Homo sapiens: one gene and its partners. The gene in region 3 interacts genetically with the main gene of each other region. Each region holds a gene or a part of one and is shown on either strand. Other genes may lie near its edges. The genes, in order: GNA13, GNA12 and ARHGEF11.

What was found.
Region 1: of ARHGEF11 (region 3) and GNA13, changing one enhances a phenotype caused by changing the other (phenotypic enhancement), as found in Homo sapiens cells (one study listed by BioGRID).
Region 2: of ARHGEF11 (region 3) and GNA12, changing one enhances a phenotype caused by changing the other (phenotypic enhancement), as found in Homo sapiens cells (one study listed by BioGRID).

The regions. Positions count from the first base shown.
Region 1 is NC_000017.11:65,053,589-65,060,808, reverse strand, and holds the start of GNA13 (guanine nucleotide-binding protein subunit alpha-13), read left to right. Parts: upstream 1-4,068; 5' UTR 4,069-4,215; coding exon 4,216-4,498; intron 4,499-5,034; exon of another isoform or gene 5,035-5,216; intron 5,217-7,080; coding exon 7,081-7,220. UniProt on the Homo sapiens protein: Guanine nucleotide-binding proteins (G proteins) are involved as modulators or transducers in various transmembrane signaling systems.
Region 2 is NC_000007.14:2,841,304-2,849,201, forward strand, and holds the start of GNA12 (guanine nucleotide-binding protein subunit alpha-12), read right to left. Parts: upstream 3,006-7,898; 5' UTR 2,859-3,005; coding exon 2,550-2,858; intron 1-2,549. UniProt on the Homo sapiens protein: Guanine nucleotide-binding proteins (G proteins) are involved as modulators or transducers in various transmembrane signaling systems. Activates effector molecule RhoA by binding and activating RhoGEFs (ARHGEF12/LARG).
Region 3 is NC_000001.11:156,937,743-156,944,742, forward strand, and holds part of ARHGEF11 (rho guanine nucleotide exchange factor 11), read right to left. Parts: intron 6,692-7,000; coding exon 6,616-6,691; intron 6,361-6,615; coding exon 6,193-6,360; intron 5,039-6,192; coding exon 4,948-5,038; intron 4,248-4,947; coding exon 4,122-4,247; intron 3,692-4,121; coding exon 3,630-3,691; intron 3,332-3,629; exon of another isoform or gene 3,316-3,331; coding exon of another isoform or gene 3,313-3,315; intron 2,684-3,312; coding exon 2,465-2,683; intron 2,169-2,464; coding exon 1,806-2,168; intron 772-1,805; coding exon 676-771; intron 1-675. UniProt on the Homo sapiens protein: May play a role in the regulation of RhoA GTPase by guanine nucleotide-binding alpha-12 (GNA12) and alpha-13 (GNA13). Acts as guanine nucleotide exchange factor (GEF) for RhoA GTPase and may act as GTPase-activating protein (GAP) for GNA12 and GNA13.

The DNA of each region.
Region 1 (7,220 bases), on a different chromosome or scaffold from region 3:
CATCTGCTTTCTGTTTTATGGATTTGCCTATTCTGGACATTTCACATAAGTGGAACCTTATAATATGGGGCCTTTTGTTTCACTTTGCCTAGTATTTTCAAAGTTCATTCATGTTGCAGCATGTGTCAGCACCTCATTCCTTTTTATGGCTGAATAATTGCAATGTATAGATATGCGACATTTGGTTTATCCATTCGTTCATCGATGGACATTTGGACACCTTTTGGCTATTCCTTTTTTGTTGTTGTGGGTTTTTTTAACTTTTATTTTAGGTTTAGGAGTACATATGCAGGTTTGTTATACAGGTAAACTGCTCATCTCGAGTTTGGTGTACAGATTATTTAGTCACTCAGGTAATAAGTATAGTATGCGATATGTTTTTTGTTTTGTTTCGTTTTGTTTTGGTTTTTGAGACGGAGTTTCGCTCTTGCTGCCCAGGCTAGAGTGCAATGGCGTGATCTCGGCTCACTGCAACCTCCGCCTCCCAGGTTCAAACAATTCTCCTGTCTCAGCCTCCTGAGGAGCTGGGATTACAGGCGCGTGCCACCATGCCCGCCTAATTTTTGGTATTTTTAGTAGAGATGGGGTTTCATCATATTGGCCAGGCTGGTCTCAAACTCCTGACCTCAGGTGATCCGCCCGCCTCGGCCTCCGAAAAGTGCTGGGATTACAGGTGTGAACCACTGCACCCGACCAGGTATTTTTTTTTTAATCCTCTCCCTCCTCCTGCCTTCCACCCTCAAGTAGGTCCCAGTGTCTGTTGTTCCCCTCTTTGTGTCTTGTTTTTTAGAGATAGGGTCTCACTCTGTCACACAGACTTAGAGTTCAGTGGCATGATCATAGCTCACTGTAGCCTTGAGCTCCTGCATTTAAGCAATCTTCCTGCCTCAGCCTCCTGAGTAGCTAGAACTACAGCTATGTGCCACCACATCTGGCTATTTTTTTTTTTTTTTTTTTGAGACAGGGTCTGGCTCTGTTCCCCAGGCTGAAGTGCAGTGGTGCAATTTTGGCTCACTGCAGCCTCCGCTTCCTGGACTCAAGCGATTTTCCCACCTCAGCCTTCTGAGTAGCTAGGACCACAGGTGCACACCGCCTTCCCCTACTTTTTATATATTTTTTTGTAGACAGGGTTTCACCATGTTGCCCAGGCTGCTCTTAAACTCCTGGCTTAAGTGTTTGGATTACAGGCGTGAACCACTGCAGCCGGCTAATCTCTTGGCTACCATAAATGGTGCTGCCATGAACGTGGGTATACAAGTTTTTGTTTGAACACTGTTTTCAATTCTTTTTAGTATTTTGGGGGGTATACCCAGGATAAAATTACTGGGTCATATGGCAATTCTATGTTCACCTCTTTGAGAAACCACCAAGTCTCTAACTCATTTTTATGTTTACAATTTACAAGGTGTCTTGATCACCAGTTAGAAGAAGCTGGACAGCTGCAGCCAAACCCCTAGGTTGGACCCAAAGAGGTCTCTTTTTCTTTCTTTCATTCATTCATTCTTTTTCTTTTTTTTTTTTTTTGAGACAGAGAGTCTCACTCTGTCACCCATGCTGGAGTGCAGTGGCCTGATCTCGGCTCACTGCAACCTCCGCCTCCCACGTTCAAGCAATTCTCCTGCCTCAGCCTCCCGAGTAGCTGGGACTACAAGCGCCCACCACCACTCCCCACTAATTTTTGTATTTTTAGTAGAGATGAAGTTTCGCCATGTTGGCCAGGCTGGTCTCGAACTCCTGGGCTCAAGTCATCTGCCTGCATCAGCCTCCCAAAGTGCTGGGATTACAGGCATGAGCTACTGTGCCCGGCCTTCTTTTTCTTTCTTTCTTCCTTCCTCCTTCCTCCTTCTTCTTCTTCTTCCTTCATTTGACTTTCAGGTCAAAGAGGTCTCTTTTTAAAAACTACACTGACTAGAACAGCCAGACTTGATGTGAGCCAAGTTTGTTCCAAGGCAAGCTTACACGCAGGGCTTTAAACAGCTTTCTCTGCTGCTCTGCATGTCACGACATGAACTGGCTGGGCAGGAATACCTTCCTGCCTCCTAGGCATTCTTGGTTTTCCATTATATTACACACACTTCTGAAAAAAGATGTTAACTACCTAACTTACAAGTTTCTCTCCTCTTTGTTGGAGTTCAGATTAGCACCTGGGGTCAATGCAGAAACAGTGCTCGGGGACAGGTTCTATGCCCCAATCCTGGGAGAGGCGAGTCCTTGCATGGTTAGAGAACAGGGCCTCCCAAACACTAGATGAGATGATGGAAAAATTCTCCATCCAGGGCAGGCTTTTACCATATATTTTGCCTGACAGCACTGCTCAGTGATTCTGACTCTTATCAATCCACAGATATTGGAGGTGAGCCTACTCTACTTGTATATTGTAGGTTGTCCACCCTCTGGGCTTGCCAGAGCCACAGGAGATAATCCTACTACAGGCATTGTTTACTGCAGCCAATCTACTGAGTCGAGGCTTCTCGGTCATTAACCCAACCCCAGGGAGTAACTGATTAGTACCGATTTTAAAATTTAAACCTGTTCGGGAGTTTCTTGGAATGCTGACCTCTTACCTCCGCTCCCTTATACATACGAAGTTTCTGAGCCACAGGAGCCCAAAGCTACGTTGCATTGCCCAAAACAGGGACAGACCAAAGTGGCTTTTTCCACTTGAAACTAAATACTAAGAATGAAGAGGTCGGCTCTCGGGGGTCCCGGTTAAGCAGTTTCTCTGCCAACCCACAGCTGTCACTTGTGGCTTGTCTCCTGGCCTCCTTTCAGGTGTCCTGGCCTGAATCTGCTGTTAGGACAGAAAAAAAGTCCCTGGACGGGTCATATCCTCTGTAATCTGGCAGGAAAGCTAAAATTTGCGTGCTCCCATTCCTCGTTGTGTTTGTGTATCTGCTTCCTTGTTGGGAAGAGCCTACATCACAGTGTCCGGTGTAGGGGATTTTCACCATGACCTCACCCTCCTGCTGCCACTCGCTAATTCCGGCGCGGCCAAGCGTCCCTGAAGTCACATCACAGCCCAGGTGGAATGCACGAGTGAGCCATTAAATGCCCCTGGTAGCACGTCTCAAGTGAACATCAACTCCAGTTCTTTCCCCTCACAGAGAGCCCTGGTAGGGGTCTGAAAATGCCAGAAAGAGCTGGAAGTGGGGGTGGACGACGTCTGGTTACCGTTCTGGGATTCGGAGACTAGAAGGTCAAGGGAGTCACTTTAAGAAAACACACCAGGCCTGGGCCTGGTGGCTCTGTCTGGAATCCCCGCACTGTGGGAGGCCGAGGCTAGAGGATCGCTTGAGCTCAGGAGTTCGAGACCAGCCTGGGCAACATAGGGGGGAGCCCCTGTATCTAAAAATAAATACAAAAAATTTAGCCGGGTATGATGGCACACGCCTGTACTCCCAGCTACTCGGGAGGCTGAGGCGGAAGGATGGCTTGAACCTGGGAGGCGGAGGTTGCAGTGAGTCGAGATCGAGCCAATGCACTCCAGCCTGGGCGACAGGGTGAGACTCCGTCTCAAAAGAGAAAAAATAAAATGAAATAAAGAAAATGCACCAAAGGCCTGCCAGGCTCACGCCGGCTGTTCTGTTCGAATAACTTTCGAGTCCGTGGCCTCGAAATGGGTCGGGTGGGCGGTGACAGCGGGCAGCGGGCGCGCAACGCGGGAGAAAGGGAGGCTAAGTGGGAGCCCAAAGAACCGCGTCCGGGACCTGGTCTCCGGCCTCCCGGCCTTGGGGAAGGAGCCCTTCTGCCCACAAGTGGGCTCAGGCCATGAAAGGGAAACAGAAAGTCGGGCTCCCCAGCCTGGCCCACGTGACCGCGGTTCCTCAGCCCTCCCCGCGCGCCCGGCCGCGGCTGCGGGCGCGGGCACCCGAGCGACACATCGAGCTCGTGACTCGCCGCCCAGGGCGGGAGGCGGAGAAGCGGCCGCGGCGTGCGAGCGCGCCTCCGGGAGGCAGCGGGAGCGCGCACGCTCCGGGGCCACCGCCCCTCCGGGGCCGGGCCCGCCCTCCTTCCCTCCCTCCCTCCCCCGCTGTCCTGGCCCGCCCTGCCCGGCCCGCCCTGCGAGTCAGTTCGCTGGTTCCCTCCCTCCCTGGGCGCGCTCGGGCCGCCGCCGCGCTCCCCGCCCTCGAGCCTCGGTGCCGGAGCCGCCCGCCGCCGGAGGAGGAGGTGGAGGGAGCCGGAGGGGCCCGCCGAGGCGGCGGCGGCGGCGGCAAGATGGCGGACTTCCTGCCGTCGCGGTCCGTGCTGTCCGTGTGCTTCCCCGGCTGCCTGCTGACGAGTGGCGAGGCCGAGCAGCAACGCAAGTCCAAGGAGATCGACAAATGCCTGTCTCGGGAAAAGACCTATGTGAAGCGGCTGGTGAAGATCCTGCTGCTGGGCGCGGGCGAGAGCGGCAAGTCCACCTTCCTGAAGCAGATGCGGATCATCCACGGGCAGGACTTCGACCAGCGCGCGCGCGAGGAGTTCCGCCCCACCATCTACAGCAACGTGATCAAAGGTGCCGGGCCGGGAATGGGGGCCGGGGGTTAAGGGCAGGGGGGCTGGGGCGGCGGCGGGTGCGGGGCGGGGCACCGCCCTGGTCCGCTGTGTCGCTGGCGAAGGAACGGGCCCGGCGGGCGGGCTGGCGGGAAGGGGGCGCGCCCCGGCAACTGGCCCTGCCCGCCCGGGGTGCCCTCGCGCCCCAGGGCGAGAGGATGCTCGGGGTCGCCCTGCTCTCCCGCTTGTCTCCCCGGTGGGCGTCACGGCCATTCCCCCACCCCCCACCGCGTCCTGGTCTCTCCCCCTGCGAGAGGGAAGTGGGGCGAGCTGGGTGCTGCCTCGGGGTGTGGGCAGACCTCTCCTGTCCTCCCCGCTGCGGATGAGGCAGGAACACCAATAGCAGCCCTAGCCGCTTCACCCCCATCCCCTGCTCGGGCGATGTGGGCCGAACCTCGCTACCCTGGCTGGGTGACCCGAGTCACATGGGGTCGCATGCGCTCCCAACTCCCTGCTTCCTTGGCCGTCTCCTAAGCAAGCGAGTTCTGGAACCGTCGCAATAAGGGAACTTTTTGCCCGAGACTTCTTGTCAAGGGCGTAGGGTGACAGCCTCCTTTTGGGCGAGAATATGAAACTTGAGGAGTGTCAGGTTGACTGTACTGGAATCAGGAGAGAGTGGACCCATACAGTTAGCATGAAAATGTAGCATCTGTGCTTTTTCGCCCCAGTGTCACGGTCAGGTAGGATGTTTGCGTGTGATTTCTGTGCAACACGTTCCACTCTCCTTTTCGCTAAGTAACTGGGGGCTGGCAGGAAGGGAGTACCACTGCTTCTATTTAGATGAAATGTAGTAGTAAGAAGACTGGCCTAAAAGTCATGTGGATCCTGTACAGATGGAGACAATGAATGAGTGTTGAGTTAGATAATTGGCTCGGCTCTTTATTGACAGTAGTTTTAAAATTAAACTTTGTTCTTAAGTGAAAAATAAACAAGTTGTTTATTTCTGGGCATTCAAAGAAATCGAAAAGATGGTTTTTATTTTGTCATTTGAAAGATAATTAACACTCGTTTCTGCGTGTCAAGTATGTTCTATAGAAAAGGCATTTTGGCAAAATTTAGGTGCAGCGCCTGGTAACTCAGGTGCATCTGGATTTTATTTTATCTGGGGAGCAGTTTAGGAGTTTGCTACAGATTGCAGGTCTTTTTAAGTGGGATTTTTGTTCAGGAAGTACATAAGGGACTTCTGCATGTCACCCCCCCGCCCCCTCCCCGCCAACCGCCTCCCGAGCTTCCAGCGTTTGGGTAAAGGAAAACTGCCTGAAGAGCCAGGCATTATGGAGTAATGAATTAGAGAGAATCACTAGACCACAGCCAGCTCTAGCCCTAGTACCTCTGCAGTTAAACTATAAAGAACAGTTGTATTTATCCTGCTGTAATGTTTAGCTCAAAACTAATTAAGGTCTCTTTCAAGGCTGCAGACTCTGCCTTGACAGTCCTTAATTGAAGGTACCTTTGTAACCTGATGCAGCTGAACTTAAGGAATTATGTTAATGAATAGCATCAACATGTTAACTGACTGTGAGCCTGGTAAACACCTCGTTCTTAATGTACACTGAGTTGTAAGTGTGATCTACGTTGAGCATTGATTATGAGATGATGTAAGTCATCAGGAATCTAGTTTTTTCAAGTTGACATGAAATTTGACAGTAGAACAGTTTCTCAGGCTGGGCGTGGTGGCTCACTCCTGCAATCCCAGCACTTTGGGAGGCCAAAGTGGGAGGATGGCTTGAGCCCAGGAGTTCCAGACCAGCTGGGCTACATAGCCAGACCTCGTCTCTATTAAAAAACAAAAACAAAAAAACCCCACCCGTTTTTCAGTTATTCAGATGACTTCCTAATAGCCAAGTGACTGTTCAGATTGATCAAACTTAATAAAAGTAATAGATCAGTGATAGGAAAAATGAGTTTCAACTAACCTCTGTGAGTTGGAGTCCGACTTTGTATTATTTTGCAGTTGATCTTCCTCCCTTTTAGGGAAATTGAAGGCCATCCTGTAACTTAAACTGGATTGAAACTTGGGCTGGAAGAAGTTTTTAAATTTTGAATGTGTTGCTAGAAGACTCAATGTTGGGTTAGGGTGCCGAAGCAACAAACAGAACATGGAGCTATAGTAGTTGGTTCTTAGTGTTTCATAAATGAACATCTTTTAGGCTCATAAAACCTTGGTTGTGTCTGTTTTCTTCTGAGCTTGGACATTGTTGGTCTGTGCAGCATAACTTCTTTTTCTTTCTTGAGTTAGATTGTTTTTTGACTACCTTCTATCCTAGAAGTTATTTTATAAATTGGAACATGTTAAAAATCCTTCAGAGAGAGGAATTGTGCTAATAGTATTTGCTTTTCAAGGCTCTAATTTTAAGACAGTGAGCAACTGTTATTTTTTTTAACCTCTGAGAAGTTACATTTGTTTTCGATGTTGGTCTTCATTTTTGAAGAAGGTTTGTCTAGGTTAATTCAGAAGTATAAGGAAATAATACTGGAATAAAAACTTATGATAATATGTAATGACTCCTCTCCATACATTTTTTTTCTTCTTTTTAAACAAAGGTATGAGGGTGCTGGTTGATGCTCGAGAGAAGCTTCATATTCCCTGGGGAGACAACTCAAACCAACAACATGGAGATAAGATGATGTCGTTTGATACCCGGGCCCCCATGGCAGCCCAAGGAATGGTGGAAACAAGGGTT
Region 2 (7,898 bases), on a different chromosome or scaffold from region 3:
ATTTAGATTTCAGATTCTATGTTTCCAAATACTTTCTCCATCTACTGAGTTGGAAGAAACTAGAGACAGTCAAACTGCTATACTTTTATGCCTGCCTGGTTCTGAGGTCTGGGCAAGCAGCAACAATAAAATCAGGATCTTTAACAGAGAAGTTACAGGGCAGGCCCTGAGACAGCCAAATGCACTTGAACACAGACGCTCCCAGTGAGCTAAGCTGGGCACCTAGTCTTCAAAGTTCACGAAGTATCTGACCAGAGCTCTGACGCACCGAGAGGCTTGGAAAGAGGTAAAATGAAAAAGGGTGTTTTATCAAATTATTTTCTTCCCTTCACAATCCTAAAGGAGCTCTATTAAAATGAAACATTTCCATGAGAAGTATGTCAAGTGCGAATACTGGCCTGGAAGTCTGGAGGCCAGGATTCCAGCACAGAGACCCCAGGAAGGAGTCACTTCATCTCTAGGGCTGAGGCAGGAGTCCTTATGGGTAAGTGATACAAATGTACCCGATAGGTTTCTACGGGGCTTTGCTAAATTTAAAATCTCCCAGGCACCATAAAACCTAGTCTCCAGGCAGGTTTTCTGGCATGGCAAACTTCTCTCCGACTCTGCTTTGAGATGATTGTCCTCGCCTCTAACTTGGTTTCCCCAAAATGGGCTGGGGAAAAAGTGGTGAGGGGACAAGGAAAGGGTAGAGAGGTAGGGAGGGAGGGAGAAAGGAAGGGAGGAAGGAAGAAAAGAAAAAAGGAAGGAAGGTAGAAAGAAAGGAAGAAAAGGAAGGCGGGAAGGAAAGGAAGGAAAGGAAGGAAGGGAAGGGAGGAAGAAAAGAAAGGAAGGAAAGAAAAGAAGGAAAGGAAGGAAGGAAAAAGGGAGGGAGGACAAAGGACGCTATCTAGGTGTAAGCAAGGCTGCACTGTTCCCTCATCATCAGTTTCCTCCAGATCTTCCTTGAGGCCCTTTAACACAGGCTCACGGTACTGAGAGACTGGAACCCCGACTTTATCAACTCTATGGTTCTTTTATTTTTTTTCACTGCCACTCAGGCTGGAGTGCAGTGGCCCAAACATGGCTCACTGCAGCCTCAACCTCCCAGGCTCAACCAATTCTCCTACCTCAGCCGCTCAAGCAACTGGGACTACAGGTGCATTCCACCATGCCCAACTAATGTGTTCATTTTTGTGGCACTGAGGTCTTGCTGTGTTGCCCAGGTTGGTCTCAAACTTCTGGCCTCAAGTGATCCTCCTGCCTCAGCTTCCCAAAGTGCAGGGATTACAGGCACGAGCCATCACACCTGGCCGACTTCTACAGCTTCTTTCACAAATATGGCGAAGAGAAAAAAGGAAGCAAGAGACAGGAGAATCTGGAGATTCATTGCAATGCATGTCGAGTCACACAAAACAATTATGCCACAATGGAGGAATTCTGAACACTGGATATCTGGTGATAATGAGCTATTACTAATGTTTAGGTTTGCTAATGGTACTGCGGTTGTGTTTTTACATGGAGGCCTCATCTTTTAGCCACTCATATACATCCTAAAACGTTTCCTAATCCAACTACACAAAGTTGGATTTGCTTGGAGACCATGGGGAGGGCACAGGTGAATAGGATTGGCACAGAATTGATGACTGCTTTAGTTGGGCTGTAGGTACTTTACAGTCAATCTACTATTTTCTCTACTTTTGTATACATTTGAAGTTTTCGTATTAGAAAGTGTGGCTCACACCTGTAATCTCAGCACTTTGGGAGGCCCAGGTGGGAGGATGGCTTGAGACCAGCCTGGGCAAGAGAGTGAGAGCCTTTCTAAAAAAACAGAAAAGTAAAAAGAGACTCATGGCTGGTTCCCGTCCAGTCTCCACTGCTCTTCTTCTAAGCTCAGCCGGAGGGCACGGCCGGTTGGGCTCCTATCCCACAAATCTTCCAGTGGGAAATGGACAGATACCATTCTGCTAGGGCACATCCAGGAGGGGGCTAAGTGCCAAGCCCCCACTCCCCATCCCCAGAAGCTGGCCCGAGTTCCCACTCCCACGGTCCCCAGGCACCCTAGAGAGGGCAGAGGCAGACCGGGCGCCATGACTCATGCCTATAATCCCAGCACTTGAGGGAGACCAAGGCAGGAGGATCACTTGAGGCCAGGAGACTGAGACCAGCCTGGGCAACACAGCAAGACCCCATCTCTACAAAAAAAAACTTAAAAATTAGCTGGGCTGGTGGTGCGCGCCTGTAATCCCACTACTTCGGGAGGCTAAGGAGGGAGTAGGGCTTGAGCCTGGGAGGTCGAGGCTGCAGTGAGCTGTGAGGGCGCCACTGCACTCAAGCCTGGGAAACACAGCGAGACCCCATCTCAAAAAGGGCGAGACGGGGTGGGGCAGAGACGACGCCAGCAGGCCTCGGGGAATGGGTCGGGGGGGAGTGGGGTGCAGGCGGGGCTGGATCCAGCATCCTCGCCCCAGGGGTCCCCGCCCGCGGCGGCGGACCACGGAGGGGCCCGGGGCGGGGGTTAGCGCCCCGGCCCACCTGGGTGCAGGTGCTGGGCGGGGGGCGCGCGTCACCTTGAGGATGTTGTCGAAGATGGTGTCGCGGAACTCCAGCAGCGCCTTCTGGTCGAACTCGCGGCCGTGGATGATGCGCATCTGCTTGAGGAACGTGGACTTGCCGCTCTCGCCCGCGCCCAGCAGCAGGATCTTCACCAGGCGCCGGACCGCGCGCCGCTCGCGGGCCAGCAGCGCGTCGATGTCGCGGCTACGCCTCCGGGCCTCGCGCTCCGCGTCGCGCGCGCCGCTGCCCGCCCTGCGCTCGCGGGCCCCGCCGGCCTCGGCCGGCAGCAGGCAGCGGCTGAGGGTCCGCACCACCCCGGACATGGCCCCTCAGGCCGCGGCCGCGCCCCGCCGGCGCCCGGGGGCCATGGACGCTCCCGCCGGCGAGGGCGAGCCCGGGCCGAGGCACCGCCCCACGCCCCGCCGCTCGCCTCAGGCCGCGTCCGCCGCCGCCGCTGCAGTCGCTCCGAGGCCCGCACTCGTCGCCCGGCCGCCACTCGGGCCCGGCGGAGGGGCGGGCGGCGCCGCGTGAGGCCCGGCGGATTGGGCCGGCTGCCGTCCATCTGGCCGTGAGAGCCCTTCGATTGGCTCATCTCGCCAAGGGAGGCGGGCATCCCTTCCGGCCTCGGGGCGGGGTCGACGCCGAAAGAGGCGGGATCTTTGAGGTGAAGGCGCTTCTCATTGGACGCCCAGGCTGAGGTTCTTTCTTTCAGAATGAAAGGGAGGCGGGGTCGCCCGGGAGGCGGAGCGATCGTCCGCCATGGCCAATTATAATTGCTCTGAGTGGACATCAGACGTGCCCAACGGGCTTTGGATTGGGTGTTCGGGGGACGGGGCGTGACGAGAAGTGCCAGGTGTACAGAAAGATTCTCCCTTGGTTCCCAGATTGGGTCCGCCTGTGAGACCAGGACCTCGCGGAGTAGCCCAAAGGCTGGGAAATGCTGATAAGAGGTTCAGCTGCTCGTCGTATTCCCTCCGATGATCTTGTTTCTACACTATTTTCCTTCCAGAAACACTGGAGGGGGATGGGCCATAAATTTCAAACACATGCACCCTTTGAGAGTGGCATGGGCTTCTAGGAGGCTTTGCGAAAAGCTGACTAATCACTAAAATCACCAGAAGCTCCCCCAAAAGTCTTATGTCTCACAGTGATTGAGAGAGTGGGGTCTGGAGTTGCTGGGCCTGAGTTGGAATCTCCAGTCGACCAGTTACTAGGTGTACTAGTTGCATAACTTTTTTTAGCAGCTTTCCCCACCCCCCCCAACAAACCCTTTTGGATGTTCTTAGCTTCCGTTTCCTCATCTGTAAAACGGGGGTGTCATTGACGACATTGGTTATGGCTTGACATTGCTCAAATCGTCATGAAGATATAAACTGAGAACATGAACTTACCAAACACTTAGCACGTGAGCTAGCCCAAAATCAGCTCTTGATAGAGATCAGCTGATTACAGATTCTTGACTCTCCCAGATCTACTGAATCAGAACCTCCTAGAAGGAGCTCAGGTATCCCTTAAGATTAAAGGCGTGAGCCGCCGCGCCTGGCCCAGTGTGTAGTCTTTTATCTCTCGCCACCCCCCACCTTTTACCCTGAGTCCCCAAAGTCCAATCTCTGTGCGGTGTCTGTTAACTCTGCTGATTATTTCTTTTGCAGTGCCGAAGCTTTTTAGTTTAATTAAGTCCCATCTATTTATCTTTGTTTTTGTTGCATTTGCTTTTGGGTTCTTGGTCACAAAGTCTTTGCCTAAGCCAACGTCTAGAAGGATGTTTCCGATGTTATCTTCTAGAATGTTTATGGTTTCAGGTTGTAGATTTAAGTCTTTGATCTATCCTGAGTTGATTTTTGTATAACGTGAGAGACGAGGATCCAGTTTTATTCTTCTACATGTGGCTTGCCAATTATCTCAGCACCATTTGCTGAATAGGCTGTCCTTTCCCCACTTTGTTTTCATTTGCTTTGTTGAAGATCAGTTGGCTGTAAGTATTTGGCTTCATTTCTGGGTTCTCTATTATGTTCCATTGGTCTCTGTGCCTATTTTTATATTAGTACCATGCTGTTTTTGTGACGATAGCCTTATAGTATAGTTTGAAGTCAGGTAAAGTGATGCCTCCAGATTTGTTCTTTTTGCTTAGTCACAGATCTAAACTCCCCAGAAGGCTGGGCACGGTGACTCACAACTACAGTCCCAGCAGTTTGAGATGCTGAGGTGGGAGGATCACTTGAGCCCAGGAGGTCAAGGGTGCAGTGACCTATGATCGTGCCACTGTACTCCAGCCTGGACAACGGAGCAAGACCCTGTTTCAGAAACAAAACAAAACAAAAACCAACTCCCTGACAACCTTGAATGCACATAATATGTATTATTTGTCACTTGCTACAAATACTACAAATCATGCCATGAATTTGTATCACTTATGAGTCAAGATTTTGTAATCCTTGGAAAATGATTAGAAAGTCTTGCTTGTTTGTGGAAATGACCTCCCATAGGAGGCCAAATATGGCTGGGCACGGTGGCTCATGCCTGTAATCCCAGCACTTTGGGAGGCCAAGGCAGGCAGATTATCTAAGGTCAGGAGTTCAGGACCAGCCTGGCCAACATGGCGAAACCCTGTCGCTACTAAAAAATACAAAACTTGGTTGGGTGTGGTGGCGGGCGCCTGTAATCCCAGCTACTGGGGAGGCTGAGATAGGAGAATTGATTGAACCCGGGAGGCGGAGGTTGCAGTGAGCCGAGATCGCACCATTGCACTCCAGCCTGGGCAACAAGAGCAAAACTCTGCCTCAAAAAAACAAAAAAAAAAAAACAAAAACGGGAAGGCCAAATACTAGGTCTGGCATGGTAGCTCACACCATGTAATCCCAGCACTTTGTGAGGCTGTAATCCCAGCACTTTGTGAGGCTGAGGTGGGCAGATCACTTGAGGCCAGGAGTTTGAGACCAGCCTGGCCAACATGGTGAAACCTCCATCTCTATTAGAAATACCAAAATGAGCCAGGCATGGTGGTGAACGCCTGTAATTCCAGTTACTTAGGAGGCTGAGGCATGAGAATTGCTTGATCCCAGGAGGCTGAAGTGGCAGTGAGCTGCGATCACACCACTGCACTCCAGCCTGGGCAACAGAGCAGGACTCTGTCTCAAAAAGAAAAAAAAAAAAGAAAAAAAAAAAAAAGGCCAAACACTAGTATTGAAATAGAAGGGAGGAGAAATTGGAGAATCCAAAGAAAGCAATGTTTCTGAGACAGAAATAGGGAATTTTGAATCACTAAAGAGTGGACTAGAATTCAGAACAGGTTTTTGGCTCATCCAGTTCACACAGGGTTTATTCCTCATTCAGTTTTAAGAAATTAAGAAAAACTGATTCACAAAACAGTTTCAGCAAGTGCTCCAGACAGCACTCACAACTAACTTTAAATCCTTATAAATAAGCCAGGTATGGTGGGAGGCTGAGGTGGGAGGGTTGCTTGAGTCCAGGAGTTTGAGGCTGCAGTGAGCTATGATTGTACCACTGCACACCAGCCTGAACAACAGAACAAGACTCTGTCTCTATTTTTTTTAAATCTTTATAGCTTTATGCCTTGTGTTTATGTAATCATTAAACATTTTAAAGAGTTATTTACTTTTCTTTTTTTTTTTTTTTTTTTTTTTTTTTGTGATGCAGCTCTGTTGCCCAGGTTGGAGTGCAGTGGTGCAATCTCGGCTCACTACAACTTCTGCCTCCCAGGTCCAAGCTATTCTCCTGCCTCAGCTTCCTGAGTAGCTGGGATTACACGCACACACCACCATGCTTGGCCAATTTTTGTATTTTAAAAGAGGTGGGGTTTTATCACATTGGCCAGGCTGGTCTCAAACTCCTGACCTCAAGTGATCCACCTGCCTCGCCCTCCCAAAGTGCTGGGATTACAGGTGTGAGCCACCGGGCCTGGCCAAGAGTTACTTACATTTTTAAATGACACATTATGGCATTTTATGGGAGAAATTCTTCTGCTGTCGGCAATATTCGATTTGAGGATTTGACCAGGTCTCTGGACATCTCCACACGTGTCAATGGGCTAAGGTGCTTTAAATAAACAAGGTTATCTGCATAGTCCACAATAATCTCTTAATTATCCCTTCTGTTTGTACGGCATGCTAAAAGTTTTGAAGTACTTACAGGTGCATTATCTCATTTGCCCTCTCTACACTGCTGGGGAAAGGTGACTGCCTTACCAGTATCTGAATCCAGGTGGCTAAGCTCTCCTGGCAAGGGAAGTATGGTTAGTACACTGCAAACCCCGAACTGGAAGTCTGACACACAGCATTCTCTGTGTATAATAGGATGGAGAAAAACATGAGAACTTTGAAGTTTGGCTCCATCACCTACCAGCTGTGTGACCTTCAACAAGTCATACAGTATCTCTGAGACGTAGTTTCCTTGTCTGTAAAATCAGGATGAAAATAAAGCTGTACTACACCTTAAATAAGTTAATACAGATAAGGTCCTAGAACTGGACCTTAGCACATAACAGGCCCTCAGTAAATGGTCATATTGTTATTATTATCATCGTGGAGCTTTGGGAATCGGGTATTGCAAATTTAGAATAATAGTGGCAGGCTGGGGAAGAATCTATAAAGACAATACCTTGTATGGTATGATATTAAAAATTAAAACCTGGGAGGTGGTCTGGTCAAATAAATTAAGGTACATCCATATAAGTACAATAACATATTATTCCTGGCCAGGCATGGTGGCTCACGCCTGTAATCCTAGCACTTTGGGAGGCCGAGGTGGGCAGATCATCTGAGATCTGGAGTTTGAGACCAGCCAGGTCAACATGGTGAAACCTTCTCTCTACTAAAAATACAAAAATTAGCTGGGTGTGGAGGCACGTGCTACTTGGGAGACTGAGGCAGGAGAATCGCTTGAATCCAGGAGGCAGGGGTTACAGTGAACTGATATCGCACCACTGCACTCCAGCCTGGGCAACAGAGCGAGACTGTCTCAAAAAACAAACAAAATAACATATTATTCCTAAAAAGAATATGCAAGACTAAAATGTGTAAATAGATGGCCCACAGACATGCTTTCTTGGTCTACCAGCTGTTAAAAAAAATTGGTAGAGAGTAGGAGGAATAGACTGAATGTTCCTCCCAACTTGTATTCAGTTCCACCTCTGGAGCTAAGGAGAAGCCAGGAAGGGGGAGTCCGACAGCAGGGCCTGAAACCTTCATGTGACACGGTAAGCTCACCTGAAATCTCTAGGAAAGGAAGCAGCCACAGGGACTCTCACTCTCCAGTGGGCCAGCAGTGAGGGGATCAGGAACTCAGAGGCCTGGTATAGGGCCCAAGACGCTGGGATTCCCAATAGGAACAGGATCCCCTTAGGT
Region 3 (7,000 bases):
GGAGAAGTGGCAGAGCTGCAGTGTTTCATTTGGGGAAATTGGAGTGGCTCCCCCTCCTTGAGTAAACAGATTGTGAGCTGGTTTCAGGCTCTTCTGAAAGGAGCAGGCAGCAGCCCTCTTGCCCTGCCTGACTCCAGCTCTGGATGAACTACAGCCCTGCCCTGCCCCTCTTCCATCCATGCCACGATCCTCTGGAGGTCCCTTGACCCAACCAAGGGGTGTCAGAGAGAGCTGGAGGAAGGACGTGGAGGGTTCCTGACAGGCAGGAAGCACAGAGAACCACCGCGGAATCTGGGAGGCTCTTTCAGCCGATTTCCACAGTGACACTGGAGCGGCGGCTGAGGTGGGGAAGTGGCTGCTTGCATATCAGGTGAAGGACACTAGGTCCCCACCCCCAGGCCAGGCTTCCCTGCCCCTCCCACAATTGCACACAGGCATTTATCCCTGCCATTCTGAACAGGAGCCTGGACAGGTGGCTTCTTAAGGCTGGATGGACAGCCAGCCTTTAGAACCAGATCTCCCCGTCTTTAGAGCCAGATCTTCCTCCTCCCCATTCCAGGCAGCTGAGGGAGCTTGTGGGTGTGTGTGTGACCATGGGCAGGGGTCCGACTCTGCCCTCACAGGTTCCACACTCCAGTCTTGGCCTGTCTTTAGCTCCAAGGAGAAAGTTATTACCCGTAGCCTTTGTTCCGCCTTCCACTTCAGGTGGCCCAGGCTCTGACTGGCCACTCTCTGGTAGTGCAGGGACAACCTTGCTGCCTGCCACCTCAGCTGCACCGACACCACCACCACCAGGAAGAGGAGAGACCAAAACACAAGGAAAGGGAAGGGAGAGAGAACAGGAAGGAGAGAGGGCAGGAGGTGGGGACAGGGGGAGGAGAAAATGGGAAGAACAAGGTGAACACAAGATCATACACGATGACATCCCAGGCAGTGCAGAGAACTTTCCACCAATTCACCGAGAGACAGAGAAGGAAGGTCAGTTCCCAGAAACCCAGGAGACAGGTGGCCCTTGGGCAGATGGAATGAAAAATGCTGCTGGAAGGGAGGCAGAGTGGAATCCCAGGGGAGGGCAGGCCCACTAGCGTGGAACCCCATCCCATGTGTGCCCCAGGCTTTGTTCTACTTTTCTTGCCACCCTCTCAGACCAGCCCACTCTTCCCGGGGTGGGGACCTTCCTCCCTGGGCTCATCTATTGGCCTCCCTGTGAGCTTGTCTTGGCTTTTCTTGTCTCAAGGCCGTCCATGGTGTTTCCCAACCCGGGGTGCCCTCCCTGCCACCTTGTTCACTCCCCACATCCCTCACTCGCCAAATGTCTTCCCAGCTTTGTCCTCCACCCCTTCCAGTCCCAGCTGCCACCTCTACTGCCCTTGGAGCTGTTGCCTGGCGTGAGGGGCTGCATGCACCTGCCCTGTCTTTCCCGGCCTGAGGCTCCTGAGAAGAGTGGCTCTTTTCCCTGGGAACAGGAGATCAGTGAGGAGCACTAACAGAGACTGGTACTGGTAGTTGGTTTGTGCCAGGCAGAAAGAAATGTCCTTATGTGCTATAAAACAAAGTTCAGAGATGATTCAGAATTTTGTCTAAAGCCACACAGATATTAAGTGGCAGAGCTAAGCTCTGAATCTCGAATGTCCAACTCCAAAGCCTGCCTGATATCGGCGTTGTCTCCTTCTTCCAGGACCCAGCGTAGGTCTCTGCTCACACGGTACCCAGGGGGAGTATAGGGAAGGAAGCAGCTGTTCGGAAGACTTATCTCACCTAGCAAGGGTGCTTGTCTCCCCACTGGACACTCCCATTTATTTTACCTTTTCTCACAACTTTGTAACCTCCTGCTGCCTCTGTGCTTGAAGCATCTTCAGCCAGATTCCTGTCCAGTTCTGGAGACTCCCATATCCCAGAATTTCTGGTCCTTGGGGGTAGGTGTTCCAGAGAACAGAGACCCATGTCTTCCTGCTCTGGCCGTTCCCCCTCCAGCCCTGCAAGCTGGGTGTTGTCCCCTTCACCCCCAGGGGGTGCTTGCCCTGGGGAGCCTGGGTCCCAGGGGTGAGAGGTGACGCTGATGACAGAAGGTGTGGGTGTCAGGTCGTCCTCGGGCTCCTGGGCAGCCTGAGTTTCCATGGTGTGACCTGGCAGCAGGCTCCACAGGATCAGATGTCGCAGGTTCTCCACTGGAGGGGAAACAGGGTGATGTCTTCCCAGCATGGGACTGCACACCACGCCAGAAGGATCGTTGTACTGCCCCACTGACCCCAAGGTGGTGACCTCAGGCACAGGTGAAGCTGGAGGGCTCTGGCCAACTAGCTGGTGGGGGTTGGGTGGGGAATGACATCTGTCTCCGCATCCATCTCTCCTCAAGCACACCAGGAAGAGCCTTCGGGAAGGTGGAGGGTGCAGGCGCCTGCCAGTTCACACTGGGTGTGCGACTGGGGACCAGGGGCTGACGGCAGGGCCTTGAAGCACTCACCATCTTCCAGAGCGGAGTCAGCGAGCCCTTCCATGAACAGAGGGCCTGGGAAGGCCAAGTGGATGGGGTTCCTTGTCCTGATGCCCCTGTTCTCTCCATCCAGGGATGTGGAAGGGCAAGGCAGGACACCCAGTTCCTCTTCCTCTGCACTGCCCTCCTGCTCAGGGTCCTCTAGCAGGACCTGGTGCTTCCCTTGGACCCTCTGCTGGGACCCAGTGCCTGTTTCGGATGAGAGAAGATTGTAAGGCAGGGAAAGGGAGAGGGCACGTATGGGAGAGCCTATGGGCAGCTTTGGAGCCAAGGGGCTGGGAACACTGACTTATTCTACAGTTGTTTACTGAGAACTTCCCATGGCCAGCACTGTCCCAGGCTCTTGGCATACAACAGTAAGCAAAACAAAAAGATCCCTGCCTATGTTGAGCTTACATTCTAGGGGAGGGACATACAAAAATAAGACACTTCAGTCAATTATGTAGTTTGTTAGAAGGCAGTAACTTCCACCGGAAAGAAGAAAACAACAACAGGGCATGGGGCTAGGGGCTGGACAGTGCTGGCTACAGTATTAAACAGATTGGGCCAAGAGGACACTGGAATGAAGACGTGAAGGAGGTGTGGCGTTAGGAGGAAAAGCATTCTAAGCAGAAGGAAACAACAGGGACCCAGCCAGGAAACCCGAGATTTCTCCTGAAACCCAAGACCCCAGGTTATTTCTCACGCAAGCTCTCAATGAGAATGCTGTCCCCTCTACCAATCCCATCACAGTAACTGCATCTTAAGCCCTTTGAGCTCCCCAGCCCCGCCATGTTTTCCATTCTCATTGTTGCAGCATGTATCTCCCTCCCCAACAGTAACCCCTGGCTGGAGGATGCAGGGCCCGTGGATCCCGCCAGACTGCTCGTCTTCTTCCACAGCTGATGCCGTCACCCAGAGAGGCTGGGTGGGAATTTCTGGTCAGGTGAGCGAGTTCACCCTTTCTTAAGTCTGTTCAGTCTGCTCTCCTTCCTCTTCCAGACTCTTCCTCCCGCCCTGTTTCTTCTCTACTCTTTATCAAAACCTCACACCCCGGGCCCTGATGGACTCTCCCATCGCCCCCATACTCACACCCAACCTGTGCCTACAGAAAAAGGCCTGGGCTGGCTCCCACAGGACAGTTCAGGGCCCTTACCTCCAGGCAGCTCCTCAGGTTCAGGTTCACCATGGAACACGTCTGAGTCATCCAGTTCTACCCTGAGGAAGGAAACCAACACAGGATGAGATCCCATGAGATTCCACCCTGGACTCATGCATTAGAATGGGCAATGGAGTAGGATCCGAGAAGGACGGTGTGGGCCTCTTCACCTGGCTGGTCTGCTTGGCAACCCAGAGAGGAGGGGGGCTGCTAGCTGAGCTTCTCTGGTCCCTTGCTCTACATCCCCCTCACCCTTCTTCAGGCTCAGCTCTATTATAGCCAGGTGGCAGGCTGTGGGGGAGCAGACAGGGACAAGAAGCAGGGACAGGGGGCATGTTCCTCCATCTGCCAGCACTTGGAGCTGTCTGCTCCCTGCTAGCATTTCCCTGTTGTGGCTGTCTACCCACGGGGGCGAAGGGCTTAAAAGCAGCAGGAAACAGGAGGTTTGGAGTGGAGAGAGTGCAGGGTCTGGAGGGCTAAGCACTGCACCTGCTGGGTGTGGGGCCCTGCTGGGCTGGCTCCCGGGGACCTGGGGGTGGAGGATGGACGGGCATTGGGGCAGCTCCGGGGTGCCTGGTGGCATTCCGCACGGCCTCTTCTAAGAGCTCCATCCATCTGTTGCTCGGCAGGAACAGAGAGGACTGTAGTGAGAGCAAGATAGCAGCACGCACCACCCCGTACTGAGCCCACTGGAACAGGGCTTCCAGGCCCTAAGAACCCTCTGCCTGGCAGGTGCCCACCTCCCTGTACAGTCCTCCCTGGCTGCTCCCTTGCGGTTATATTACTTGCAGCTACCAAATCCTGGACACCAACCCTCTGTTACACTCTGTGCAAAGCATTCTATGTTTTCCCTCTAAAGTAATCCTCTAACAGGTAGCATTAGCCACATTTTACAGATGAAAACCCTGGAGTTGGGAAACAGTCTGACTCAACCTGTCTCCTTCCACTGTACCATGCCACCTCTGGCAGCTGCTGTCAAAGAACATGGGCTGGGTGGGAGGCAAATGCCTGAGAAGGATGCATGAATCTAATCTGCCTAATGGTGAAGGGAGTAGGGCAGGAAGGAAAGAAGCAGCAGCAGCGGCTGGAAGACTGCCAGAAGCTCATTCTCCCAGAAGCGGGCCTGGTGACCAGGTCGGGGGTGATGACCCCTCCCAGCTTCTCTACTTCTGTCCTACCTCCCACTTCCTTCCCAACCCCTTGTCCAGGGACTGCTTTGGGGCCCAAACCTGGCCTTGCTACCCACTGTCCTCATAAACACCACCCTGGTCCGAAAGGGACCACAGTTACGGGTAACCCCTCAATCAATTCTCACGTGTTCTTGTCTGATGACGTCAATGCAACCAGCTCATAGATCTGGGGTGGGCCCAGCTTGGAGGTGCAGATGATGAAGAAGGCCCGTTTATCTGTGTGAGGAAAGGAAGGTAGAAGGGTCTGTACTAGGGATGGCAGGTGTGACTGCAGCCTGGGCCAGGGTGACAGAGTGGGACTCAAAGCCCTGACCCTCAACGCAGATGGAGAGTGCAGCACGAGACAGATGTGGATCTTCAGGACCACTTGGAACCCACTTACATAAGGGACAGAGGAAATTCCAGGACCCCTAATGTCATCTTCCACAGCCACCCCCATTCCTCTCCTGCTCTAATAACAGTGATGGCTGATAGGTGTATGGTGCTTAGGAGTTATAAAACTTTTTTTTTTTTTGAAACGGATTCTTGCTCTGTCACCCAGGCTAGAATGTAGTGGTGCCATCTTGGCTCACTGCAACCTGCGCCTCCCGGGTTCAAGTGATTCTCCTGCCTCAGCCTCCCGAGTAACTGGAATTACAGGTGCCTGCCAACATGCCTGGCTAATTTTTGTATTTTTAGTAGAGATAGGGTTTCACCATGTTGGCCAGGCTGGTCTTGAACTCCTGACCTCAAGTGATCTGAGTGCCTCGGCCTCCCAAAGGGCTGGGATTACAGGCATGAGCCACAGTGCCTGGTCAAGGGTTTATAAAACTTTTTCATACCCGTCATCCCTTTTGATGCCCACAAGAGGTAGGGTAGGTATCACTCCTATCTTACAGACGAAGAAAGTGAATCCAGAGAATTTTGCTCCAGAGCCCTTTCTCACACACACTACACTTCTCATTGAAATGTCCCTGTCCACTGGACCCAGCTCTGTACCGTGGGTACTAACATCTTCTGTAACCAAGCTCTGCCCAAGTCACTCTGTAGCAGAAAGGCTTGTCCTACTCATTCTGCCTAATCCCATTCTTCCCAATCCTGCTCAGACACTCTCACCCATCCTGGGTGTGCACATCCCATCCAGCACTGTGCTTGGGGACTGCTGACCACCCCTGTGCCAGGTTGTCTGTCTTCCTCTTGGTCCCCATCCTAACCCTCATCCTACCCCACTTTGGGCCAGTCCTACCACTTAGGCTGGGTCAGGACAGGAGGAAAGGAACACAGGTGGACAGGTAGGTCCTGTAAAGGCTCCAGACTGGCCCTGCCTCACCCAGCACTTGCTGGACATGGTCCCTGAGCCCCAGGCCAGCCTGGACCATCTCCCCAGGTACCTGTGGCCACAGAGCGGATGAGCACAGCATTGAGCTTGAGCACGGGGCTGAAGGTCTGCTTGCTGTCTGAGGAGCCCACAGCAGTCTTGCTGTGGCACTTCAGCAATAGCTTCTCATCCTGTTTCTGTAGCAGCACTAGGAGGTCCTCCAGCAGCAGCACGTGGAGGTCTGGAGGGGTATGGTCATGGGAAGGTGTTCCCTGGTGCCTACTCATCCCTCATGAGCACAATGCAGGGCCACAGGCTCTTGGAGGCTCTAGGAAGTCCTGGGAGTCTGGTGACCCCATTTCTCTCTCTGATTATTCCCTTCCCATGTCCTGAGCTATCACCTCCAGTCATGTTTCCATGCTTGGGAAAGACAGAAGAGCCCAGGGAGGCCCACCCACTACAGGTTCCTGCTCAGTCCCAGTCCCCTGGCACATACCCAAGGTCTTATCCTTGCTGATCCTCCAGGTCAGGGGTCCCTCATGGATCATTTTTCTGGTTGTAAGATCCAGGCTCTGTTAAGGAGACACCATTCATTCATTCATTCATTCATTCATTCATTCAAGTGTTTGAGAGCCTACTGTGTGCCAGACATTGTGTTAAGGTGCTGGGAATTGGTAAATAAGAAAAAGTCCTTGCCCTTACTCTCTTGTGCGGGATGAAGACAAGCAAAAAGGTAACTGTGAAGTCATGTGCCATGTGGCAGCAGGGGGATATACCAATGGCTCTGACTTGGGTCTCCCACCTGCCCCTACCACGTGCCAGCTACAGTCCCAAGAAGATCACATACTGCTTTTCCTGCCCATGCCTCCAGCTCTATTCCC